Linked DNA regions of Homo sapiens. The protein of the gene in region 1 interacts with the protein of each later gene in a pairwise test. Each region holds a gene or a part of one and is shown on either strand. Other genes may lie near its edges. The genes, in order: CHGB, PKN2 and RCC1.

Region 1 (3,655 bases):
AAAAATTAGCCAGGCATGGTGGCAGGCACCTGTAATCCCACTACTCAGGAGGCCGAGACAGGAGAATTGCTTGAACTTGGGAGGCAGAGACTGCAGTGAGCCAAGATTGAACTCCATTGAACTCCAGCCTGGGCAACAAGAGTAAGACTCCATCTAAAAAAAAAAAAAAAAAAAAAAACTCTCATTGCCACCAGCCTGGCCAATATGGTGAAACCCCATCTCTACTAAAAATACAACAACTAGTTGGGTGTGGTGGCGGGCGCCTGTAATCCCAGCTACTTGGGAGGCTGAGGCAGGAGAATCGCTAGAACCTGGGAAGCAGAGGTTGCAGTGAACTGAGATCGTGGCATTCCACTCCAGCCTGGATACAGCCTGGGTGGCAGAGTGAGGCTCCATCAAAAACAAAAACAAAAACAAAAAAAACACCAAATAAACACCTCTCGCTGCCAGACAAGACTCTCTTGCTATAGCTATACATGAGCCCTCATGCATGAAATGGTAAAAAGCAAATAGTGATTGGCCAAAAGAGTAACCTGAGGCCAGGCGCAGTGGCTCACACCTGTAATCCCAGCACTTTGGGAGGCTGAGGCGGGCGGATCACAAGGTCAGGAGATCAAGACCATCCTGTCTAACACAGTGAAACCCCATCTCTACTAAAAATACAAAAAATTAGCCGGGCGTGGTGACACACGCCTGTAGTCCCAGCTACTCAGGAGGCTGAGGCAGGAGAATCGCTTGAGCCCAGGAGGTGGAGGTTGCAGTAAGCCGAGATTGCCCCACGGCATTCCAGCCTCAGTGACAGAGCGAGTCTCTGTCTAAAAAAAAAAAAAAAAAAAAAAAAAAAAAAAAAAAGAGCAACCTGAATTAATTCAATCTTTGGGGGCTTCAGGTAACAATGGTAGCTGTGGGGGCCTGAGCCTTTAGGGACCCTAGAAACAGTGGATGGAAGCTTTCCTACCACTCCCAGCCCACATACCTCTTTCTGAGTTTCTTTCCAACTTCTTTTTTCCAGCAGTTACAGGAAGTGAGTAAGAGCAGAGTGGGTCACTAGGCAGAGAGTAAAGGCTGCTCCTTTTGGCAAACCCATCTTGGTATCTCCCTTTCCCTTTCTTTGTTTACTAGACCAATGCAAAAGTGAGGGGCCTGTCCCATCAGCTCACTAAAGAACCACAGTTGCTTAGGAAAAGTTGCCTATGCCTGCCTGCCAAGATCTTAGCCCTTAGATTATGGCATAGTAACTCTAGCCTCTGCTCCAGCCCTGATTATGCCCTGAGGTCTTTTGGTGTCTGTTGAGAGAGACGTAGGGAAACTGGGAAAAATCAAATGTATCTAAGGATCCTGGAGATGTTATACCCAGAGAGTGACAGAATGCTGAGATGGCGAAGGTTTAAGAGCTCTTCTGTGGTTGAGCCTTAAACACCAGGCAGAGCTAGACAGACAAATAACACAAAAGAGTAAGGCAGGACAGGAAGTGACTCACAGACTGGAGGGCACATGCCTTTTCTGAGAGGGAGCAGGTAATTCTCAGCTCTAAACCCGTTATGGAGAAATACAGACTATGTTGTCAAATCTTGGGATTTTTCAAAAGAAGTTAAAATTTTGATTTTTAAAAGACATCTCCTGGTATTTTCATATCGCCTCTGAATTCAGATGTACTAAAACTGCTGTTTAGGTCAAACAGAATTTACCTCTGATGCACCAGTTTGCAACTTTTATCCTATTCTAGTTCTCTCTCTCTTGTTGGCATGTCGTAAACTGATCAGAAGACTGGTGGAGCTTTTGCCCAACTGGTTGGATGAATGCCTTTATACAGCCTCTGTTCCACCCCACGCCCATCTCCACTCCCACTCCTACTTGCATGTCTCAGAGTCAGCATATACTCACTGAGCAAATGAGTATTTGGGGAGTAGGACAGAATCATTGTTTTATGGATTTGAGAGACCTCAGGGAAGACGTAGTCTAATTTCTTCACAGGTACAAGAATCTCTTTGACTAGGGTTGATCTGGTCATCCTTACAGCATGACAGATGCATTTCCCTGTTTTCGCTTGAAAGTAAGTGTGAGCTTCACAGCTTGATTTTACAGCTTGACAGTGAGTGTGTGCTGCTATCACAGCCTCTTCCAGGCCCACCTGCGGGGCTTAAAGCTAAATTTAGTAGGAAGAGCTAAGCCTCAGGCACATGCTGCTCAGGCAGTACATATTTAATTGGGAAAAAATAAAAATACTTCTGTTCCTGACACTTAAGACTCACAAACCAGTAGGCAGTAGGAAAGGGACCACAGTGACTCGGCCCCTGGAGGCTGAGATCTTGTCTGATCAGCTCTATTTCAACCAACTCTCAGAATGACATCAGTATCTGTCTGTCTTAGTCAGCTTGGGCTGCTATATCAAATACCATAGATTGGATGGCTTAAACAACTAACATTTATTTTTCACAGTTACAGCAGTCGGAAGTCCAAGATCAGAGTGTCTTATGAGGGCCCACTTCCTGGCTTGTAGATGGCTGCCTTCTGTCACTGTATCCTCATCTGGTGGAGACAGAAATCATCTCTTTCTCATATCTCCTTTCTTAGGGCACTAATCCCATTGTAAGTGCTCTACCTTGATGACCTAATTACCTCTCAGAGGCCCCCACCTCCACGTGCTATCACATTGAGGATTAGGGCTTCAACATTTTGGAATCACACAAACATTTAGTCAATAGCACTGCCCAGAGCCACCATGCTTCCCTGTGCCCATCTGGCTAGCCATGCCCCAATGCTATACACACCACCACTGGCTTTTAAGAGGCAAAGAGACTGGTGACAGATGGGCCTTCTCTCAGATGTCTGGAAAAGGCCAGGGACATTTTCATTGCCTCATAAACATGAGAATATTATTATCATGCCAGACTGGACTTTAAACAGAGAGGTACAGAGAGTCCACTATTTCTTGGACATTTTTACAAAATAAATAATTTTTTTCCATTTTGCAAATATCATTTCAAAATAACTTATCAGTGCCACCCAATAGAAATATAATGTGAGCCACAAATATAATTTCAAATTTTATAGTAACCACATTTAAAAAGTAAAAAGAGACAGGTGGAAATTAATTTCAATAATATATTTTATTTTTATCCAATTTTTTTCTGATATATAATTTTATAAATCTGATCTATTTGAAATATATATTATCCAATACATCCAAAATATTATTTCAACATATAATGATATAAAAATTGTTGAGATTATTTTACATTATTCTTTATTCTCAGAAGTCTGATGTGTATCTTACATATATAGCATGTCCCAGATCGGACCAGCCACATTTCAAGTGCTCAACAGCACTTGGGCTTATGGTGCCTGCAGTGTAGACCCAGAGCTGTCAGTGGCCTTGGCTTCAGGCATTTTATCTGAACTCTGTGACATAGGTTGAAATCCAAGCCCTCCCAGCTAACAACTGAGACAATGCTAACTGCCTATCTCCTTTCATGGGGTGCCCTTGAGTTAAGGAGGACTTAGTAAAGGAGCTATTGATATTTGGAAAAGATGGACGAGAACAGCATTCAATTAAAATATCAGTTATACCATGTACTCTGACTCTGGAAACACAAAGATAACTCACTGTGCTGAAGTCTGTCCCCAACATCTGAGAACATGTTGGGTGGATGGA
Region 2 (3,655 bases), on another chromosome or scaffold:
TGTGTAACATTATATACATAAATATTGCCTGTAAAAAATGAAGATCAAGAAAGCATGGGACAGTGTACTTGATGACAGTAAACACCTTAAATGTGAAGGTAGTGTTGAAGTGCCTCATAAAGATGAGTGGATATACAAGACTTACATAATATTGTTAGGATTTATCTCTTTTAGAAATTTGTCAGTGACTTATCAAATTGGTGAAAGTTTTACTGCCCTGGCTCATAAGTACCTTAATTTAATGGAATGTAGTTATGACAAAATTTGGAATTTATTTTTGATTATAGAAGACATACCACACAATACATGTGCTGAGAGTTTTTTATTTATTTTATTTTTATTTTTATTTTTGAGACAGGATCTCGTTCTGTCACCCAGCTTGAAGTGCAGTGACGTGATCTCGGCTCACTGCAGCCTCTGCCTCCTGGGCTCAAGTGATTCGCCCATCTCAGCCTCCCAAGTAGCTGGTACTATAGGTGTGAGCCATCATGCATGGTTGATTTTTATATTTTTTTGGAGAGACGGGGTTTTGCCATGTTGCCCGGGTTGGTTTTGAACTGCTGGACTCAAGCAGTCCACCTGCCTTGGCCTCCCAAAGTGCTAGGATTACAGATGTGAGCGTCTGTGCCTGGCCTGAGTATCATATATTTTACACATTAATCATACTGTTTTCCCTTCCCTGTAGTTGCTACCTTAGGGATTCTTTAAGGAGGTGTTTGTTCTCCATTTCAGAATTTTCATTGAACAAATTTTATGCAACTTTTGGATTTTTAAAAAATTTGTTAAACATCAGGCACACTGCATTGGATTAATCACCTATCTGTCTGTCAATCATTTTAATAAGTACTCATGGACCACCACTCCCCCTCTCTCAAAACAAGCTAGGAACTTTAACCTACGTATAGTTTTCCTCTATTCTATCCGTCTATTTCCACCTTCTTGTCATCTAGGTCATCATTTTTGAGTCCTGTGTTCATTCTCTTCCTTATATAGTAGTCCCTCCTTATCCACGGTTTCAGTTACCCATGGTCAACTGTGGTCCAAAAATAGGTGAGTACAGTATAGTACTATAAGATATTTATAAGTACTAAGATACTTTGAGAGAAACCACACTCATAACTGTAATTACAGTATAGTTATAATTGTTCTATTTTATTATTAGTTATTGTTAATTGCTTACTGTGCCTAATTTATAAATTAAACTTTAGCATAAGTATGTATGTTAAAGGAAAAGTGTAAATAGAGTTTAGTACTGTTCGTGGTTTTAGGCATTTACTGAAGGTCTCTCGGTGGATAAAAGGAGACTACTGTGTATAGTTTAGTTGGACATATAAATCTAAACATCTTTTAGTTGTTTGTATAGAATTGTGAATATAATCTTTTTGAACTTGATTTTTCACCTGTTATAAATAAGATTTATCCACATTTTTGCATGTTGCTATAGTCATTATTTAAATTGCTATATAATATTTCATTGAGTAAAATATTCATTAACTCTACTTTGGTGGATATTTGGATATTTATCCACTCTCCCTTGTTGGGCAGTTATTTTCCATTTTTTGTTTTGTTTTGTTTGTAATTATAAGCAAAGATCCTATGGACAGTCTGCATGTTTCCTACTGTGCATGTGCCACAGTTCCTATTATATACCTAGAGGTAGCATTGCTGCCTCACAGGGTAGGTGAATGTTCAACTTAAGAGATGATGCAGAACTTTCAATATGGTTGCACCAATTTATATTCATATTAGCAATATATGAAATAAAAGATCCTTTGGTTATCCATCCTCTCCAACACTTGATATTCTCTTTTTAAGTTTTACAAATCATAAGGGTGTAAAATGTTGCCTTATTGTGGTCTTGATGCGCATTTTCCTGGTTATCACTGATGTAGAACACTTCTTTTTATGTTTGTCGGCCTTTTTACGTGGCTTCTTCAGTGAAATTCCTATTTATGTCTCTTGCCTATTTTTGTTTTTCTTACTAGTTTATAAGAGTTCTTTATATTGCTTATGTTAATCCTCTGTGTACATTGTGAATGTCTTCTTTCAGTTCCTAACTTTTTCGCTTTCTTTTATGGAGTTGTGTGGGAGGGACAGTTTTAAATGCCTCTACCTTCTTTGGCAAATATTTGGAATAATTTACATCGTTATCATCAACAGGCTTGTATTTAATATCTATTGTACATTTGGTATAGAAAGGGTAAAGTTATATTAATAGTTTATGGCCTGGGGATTTGTAAACTATCCAAATGAACAGCCATAGGAAGTTGTATAAAATATTGTATTGCTTCACACATGCTAGGCACCCAAATGCTAGGTTGATTTAGTTAATGAGTAAATTCAGAAGCAAAGAAATAGCAAAAATTATACATACACTTCATCAGTTGCTTATTTTCCAATTCCATACCTCTCTGTTGCAAACTACTTATTATTAGTCATTAATAATATTTTATTCTTTTGTTTAAAGGGCAGTATATTCCGTAAGATTATGTGAGTCAGTTATTTAGGTATTTTCATAGCTTGCCATTAAAATGCTGGAGTTGATCAGATTTAATACTGGATATAAAGCAAAATATTAATCTTCTGAACAGTTTACTAGTTCAGAAGTTTACAAACTCGGAATCCTAAATACAGTTTTTGTCATTGCTGTGCATCTTTTGATAAAAAAAATTCTTAAGTCAAATTTGTCCATTGTTTATCATACAGTAAGTCCTCACTTAATGTCATTGACGGGTTCTTGGAAACTGACTTTAAGCAAAATAACTTATAATGAAACCAGTTTCTTTTTTCTCATCAGTGTTCTAAGGAAATGATATTATAAACAATGAAACATTAGCCAGAAGTGGTGATGCACACCTGTAGTCCCAGCTACTTTGGAGGTGGAGGTGAGAGAATGACTTGAGCCCAAGAGTTAAGGCTGCAGTGAGCTGGAATCGTGTCATTGCACTCTAACCTGGGCAGCATAGTGAGACCCTGTCTCAAAAAAAGAAAGAAAAGAAATGATATTGAGCGAAACAGCATTATTAAAGGACCTGAAGCACATTGTTTTTCTTAAAGTCTCAGTTCCAAGAACCTATCAGCAGTGTTAAGTGAGGACTTACTGTAATTGCTTTTCATGCCCTTTTAAATAAATTATTCCCTATCCTGGGTTTAAAAGATAGCTACCCAAGTTTGCTCCTAAGAATCTTGCAGTTTTATTTTTTAGATTTAAGTCAGTTTATCTGGATTTGTTGTTTTTTAATAGACTTCATATTTTAAAGCAGTTTTAGGTCCACAGCAAAATCGAGAGGAAGGTCTAGAGATTTCTCAAATAACTGCGTCCCTACATATGTACATATGCATTATCGACATCCTCCACAAGAGTACATTTGTTGCAGTTGATGAACCTATATTGACACATCATCATCATCCAGAGCCCAGAGTGCACACATCTTGGTGTTGTGCATTCTATGGGTTTGTACAAATGTATAATGACATGTATCCAGCATTATAGTATACAGAATAGTGTCCCTGCACTAAGCTTATTCTCTGTGTTCTACCTATTCATCCTTCCCTCTCCTCCATCCCCTGGCAACCACTGATCTTTTTACAGTTTCCATAGTTGTGCGTTTGGGAAAATCTCATGCGGTTGGAATCATACAGTGTGTAGCCATTT
Region 3 (3,655 bases), on another chromosome or scaffold:
TCTCGAACTCCTGACCCGCCCAGGCTAGAGTGCAATGGCACGATTTCAGCTCACTGCAACCTCTTCCTCCTGGGTTCAAGCAATTCTCCTGCTTCAGCCTCCTGAGTAGCTGGGATTACAGGCGCCTGCCACCATGCCCAGCTAATTTTTGTATTTTTAGTAGAGACGGGGTTTTACCATGTTGGCCAGCCTGGACTTGAACTCCTAAACGTCAGGTGATCCACCCGCCTCAGCCTACCAAAGTGCTGGGATTACAGGCGTGAGCCACCGCGCCTGGCCATTTTGTGTATTTTTAGTAGAGACCGGGTTTCACCATTTTTGCCAGGCTGGTCTGGAACTCCCGACCTCAGGTGACCTGCCCATCTTGGCCTCCCAAAGTGCTGGGATTACAGGCATGAGCAACTGCACCTGGCCTTTATTTTTATTTTTTTAGTTTTGTATTTGTATTTTTTATTTTATTTTGAGATGGAGTCTCATTCTGTTGCCCAGGCTGGAGTGCAGTGGTGCAATCTCGGCTCACTGCAACCTCTGCCCCCTGGGTTCAAGCAATTTTCCTGCCTCAGTCTCCAGAGTAGCTGGGATTACAGACACGCACCACCATGCCCGGCTCATTTTTGTATTTTTAATAGAGACAGGGTTTCACCATGTTGGCCAGGCCGGTCTTGAGCTCTTGACCTCAAGTGATCCACCCATCTCGGCCTCCCAAAGTGCTGGGATTACACGTGTGAACTACTGCGCCCAGCCCCAGTTGTTTGTCTCAAGAGTCTCACTCTGTCATCCAGGCTGGAGTGCAGTGGCAGGATCTCGGCTCACTGCAACCTCTGCCTCAGCCTCCCGAGTAGCTGGGACCACAGATGTGCACCACCATGCCCAGCTAATTTTTTTTTTTGAGACGGAGTCTCACTCTGTTGCCTAGGCTGGAGTGTAATGGCGTGATCTCAGTTCACTGCAATCTCTGCCTCCTGGGTTCAAGCAATTCTCCTGTTTCAGCCTCCCGAGTAGCTGGGATTACAGGCGTGCACCACCACGTCCAGCTAATTGCCCATCTAATTTTTGTATTTTTGGTAGAGACAGGGTTTCACTATGTTGGCCAGGCTGGTCTTGAACTTCTGAGCCTCAGCAGTCAGCCTGCCTTGGCATCCCAAAGTGTTGGAATTACAGGAGTGAGCCATCGCAACTGGCTGATATGGAGGTTCTGGCTGTAATAATGTACTGTGGGTTTTATAACATATATAAAAGTAAGACACATGACAATATCAAAGACTATATAGTGAGAAATGGAAGAAATATTTATTTATTTTTTCGAGACGGAGTCTCGCTCTGACCTCGTGATCTGCCTGCCTTGGCTTCCCAAAGTGCTGGGATGGATTACAGGCGTGAGCCACTGTGCCCAGCCGGAAGATTGTTTTTTTTTTTTGAGATGGAGTTTTGCTCTTGTTGCCCAGGCTGGAGTGCAATGGCATGATCTCGGCTCACTGCAACCTCTGCCTCCCAGGTTCAAGCAATTCTCCTGCCTCAGCATCCCGAGTTGCTGGGATTATAGGCATGTGCCACCATGCCCGGCTAATTTTGTATTTTTAGTAGAGACGGGGTTTCTCCATGTTGGTCAGGCTGGTCTTGTACTCCCGACCTCAGGTGATCCGCCAGTCTCAGCCTCCCAAAGTGCTGGGATTACAAGTGTGAGCCACCACACCAGGCCGCCAGAAGGTTTTTTTTTTGTTTTTTTTTTGAGACGGAGTCTCGCTCTGTCGCCCAGGCTGGAGTGCAGTGGCGCGATCTTGGCTCACTGCAAGCTCCACCTCCTGGGTTCATGCCATTCTCCTGCCTCAGCCTCCCTAGTAGCTGGGACTACAGGCACCCGCCACCACGCCCGGCTAATTTTTTGTATTTTTAGTAGAGATGGGGTTTCACCGTGTTAGCCAAGACGGTCTTGATCTCCTGATCTCGTGATCCGCCCGCCTCGGCCTCCCAAAATGCTGGGATAACAGGCGTGAGCCACCGGGCCCCGCCTTTTTTTTTTTTGAGACGGAGTCTTGCTCTGTTGCCTAGGCTGGCACGATCTCAGCTCACTGCAACCTCTGCTTCCAGGTTCAAGCAATCTTCTGCCTCAGCCTCCCAAGTAGCTGAGACTACAGGCGAGCACCACCACACCTGGCTAATTTTTTTTTTTTTGTATTTTTAGTAGAGGCGGGGTTTCACCATATTGGCCAGGCTGGGGAAGATTCTTATACTACAAGTGAACTGGTTTAATATCAATTGAATGTGGACTATTGTAAGTTAAAAATGTATAATATGGCTGGGCATGGTGACTCATGCCTGTATTCCTAGCACTTTGGGAGGCCAAGGTGGGAGGATTGCTTGAGCCCTGGAGGTCAAGACCAGCTGGGACAACATCATGAGACCTTGTCTCTACAAAAAATACAAAATTTAGCCAGCCATAGTGGCACATGCCTGTGGTCTTCACTACTCAGGAGACCGAGCTGGGAGGATGGCTTGAGCCCAGGAGTTCCAGTTTAAGGCTGCAGTGAGTCATAATCTTGCCACTGAACTCTGGCCTGGGTGACAGAGTGAGACCCTGTCTTAAAAAAAAAAAGTAAATAGCCTAAACACTCCAATTAAAAGACATAGACTGTCATACTGAAAAACCCAACATGTTACCTACAAGAAATAAAATTTTAAAATAAGGCCAGGCACGGTGGCTCATGCCTGTAATTCTAGCACTTTGGGAGGTCAGGGCAGGCGGACTGCCTGAGCTCAGGAGTTTGAGACCAGCCTGGGCAACATGGTGAAACCCCATCTCTACTAAAATACAAAAAAATTAGCCAGGCATGGTGGTGCATGCTGTAGTACCAGCTGCTCCAGAGGCTGAGGCATGAAAATTGCTTGAACCTGGGAGGCAGAGGTTGCAGTGAGCTGAGATCGCATCACTGCACTTCAGCCGCGCAAACCCCATCTCTACTAAAAATACAAAAAAATTAGCTGGGCGTGGTGGTGCGTGACTGTAATTCCAGCTACTCCGGAGGCAGAAGTTGCAGTGAGCTGAGATTGTGCCACTGCACTCTGGCTTTGGCAACAGAGTGAGACTCTTGTCTAAAAAAAAAAAAGAGGCTGGGCGCGGTGGCTCACACCTGTAATCCCAGCACTTTGGGAGGCCGAGGCGGGTGGATCACAAGGTCAGGAGATTGAGACCATGGTGAAACCCCATCTCTACAAAAAATTAGCAGGGCATGGTGGCAGGCACCTGTAGTCCCAGCTGCTGGGGACGCTGAGGCAGGAGAATGGTGTGAACCCAGGAGGCGGAGCTTGCAGTGAGCCAAGATTGTGCCACTGCACTCCAGCCTTTGGAGACGCAGTCTCCAAAAAAAAAGAAACTAGCAAGGATAGATTTGAACAACACTAATACAACAACAATAATACACTTTCAAGTAGCCCATAGATCAAAGAATAGAAAAGGAACTCAAAAATATTTTGAAATGAATTAAAATGAAAACAAAACATACCAGAATTTGTGTGTTGTTAACAGTATCTGGAGGAAATTTATAGCACTAAATGCCTACATTAGAAAAAAAGAAAGGTCTCCAATCAATGAGCTCAGCTACTAGCTTAAGAAACTAGGAATAGATGAGCAAACTAACCCCAAAATAAGCAAAGAAAA

Evidence for each region.
Region 2: the proteins of CHGB (region 1) and PKN2 interact in a two-hybrid assay, tested with the Homo sapiens proteins (one large-scale study listed by BioGRID and IntAct).
Region 3: the proteins of CHGB (region 1) and RCC1 interact in a two-hybrid assay, tested with the Homo sapiens proteins (one large-scale study listed by BioGRID and IntAct).

The regions. Positions count from the first base shown.
Region 1 is NC_000020.11:5,917,994-5,921,648, forward strand, and holds part of CHGB (secretogranin-1 precursor), read left to right. Parts: intron 1-3,655. UniProt on the Homo sapiens protein: Secretogranin-1 is a neuroendocrine secretory granule protein, which may be the precursor for other biologically active peptides.
Region 2 is NC_000001.11:88,690,731-88,694,385, forward strand, and holds part of PKN2 (serine/threonine-protein kinase N2), read left to right. Parts: intron 1-993; exon of another isoform or gene 994-1,050; intron 1,051-3,655. UniProt on the Homo sapiens protein: PKC-related serine/threonine-protein kinase and Rho/Rac effector protein that participates in specific signal transduction responses in the cell.
Region 3 is NC_000001.11:28,512,524-28,516,178, reverse strand, and holds part of RCC1 (regulator of chromosome condensation), read right to left. Parts: intron 1-3,655. UniProt on the Homo sapiens protein: Guanine-nucleotide releasing factor that promotes the exchange of Ran-bound GDP by GTP, and thereby plays an important role in RAN-mediated functions in nuclear import and mitosis.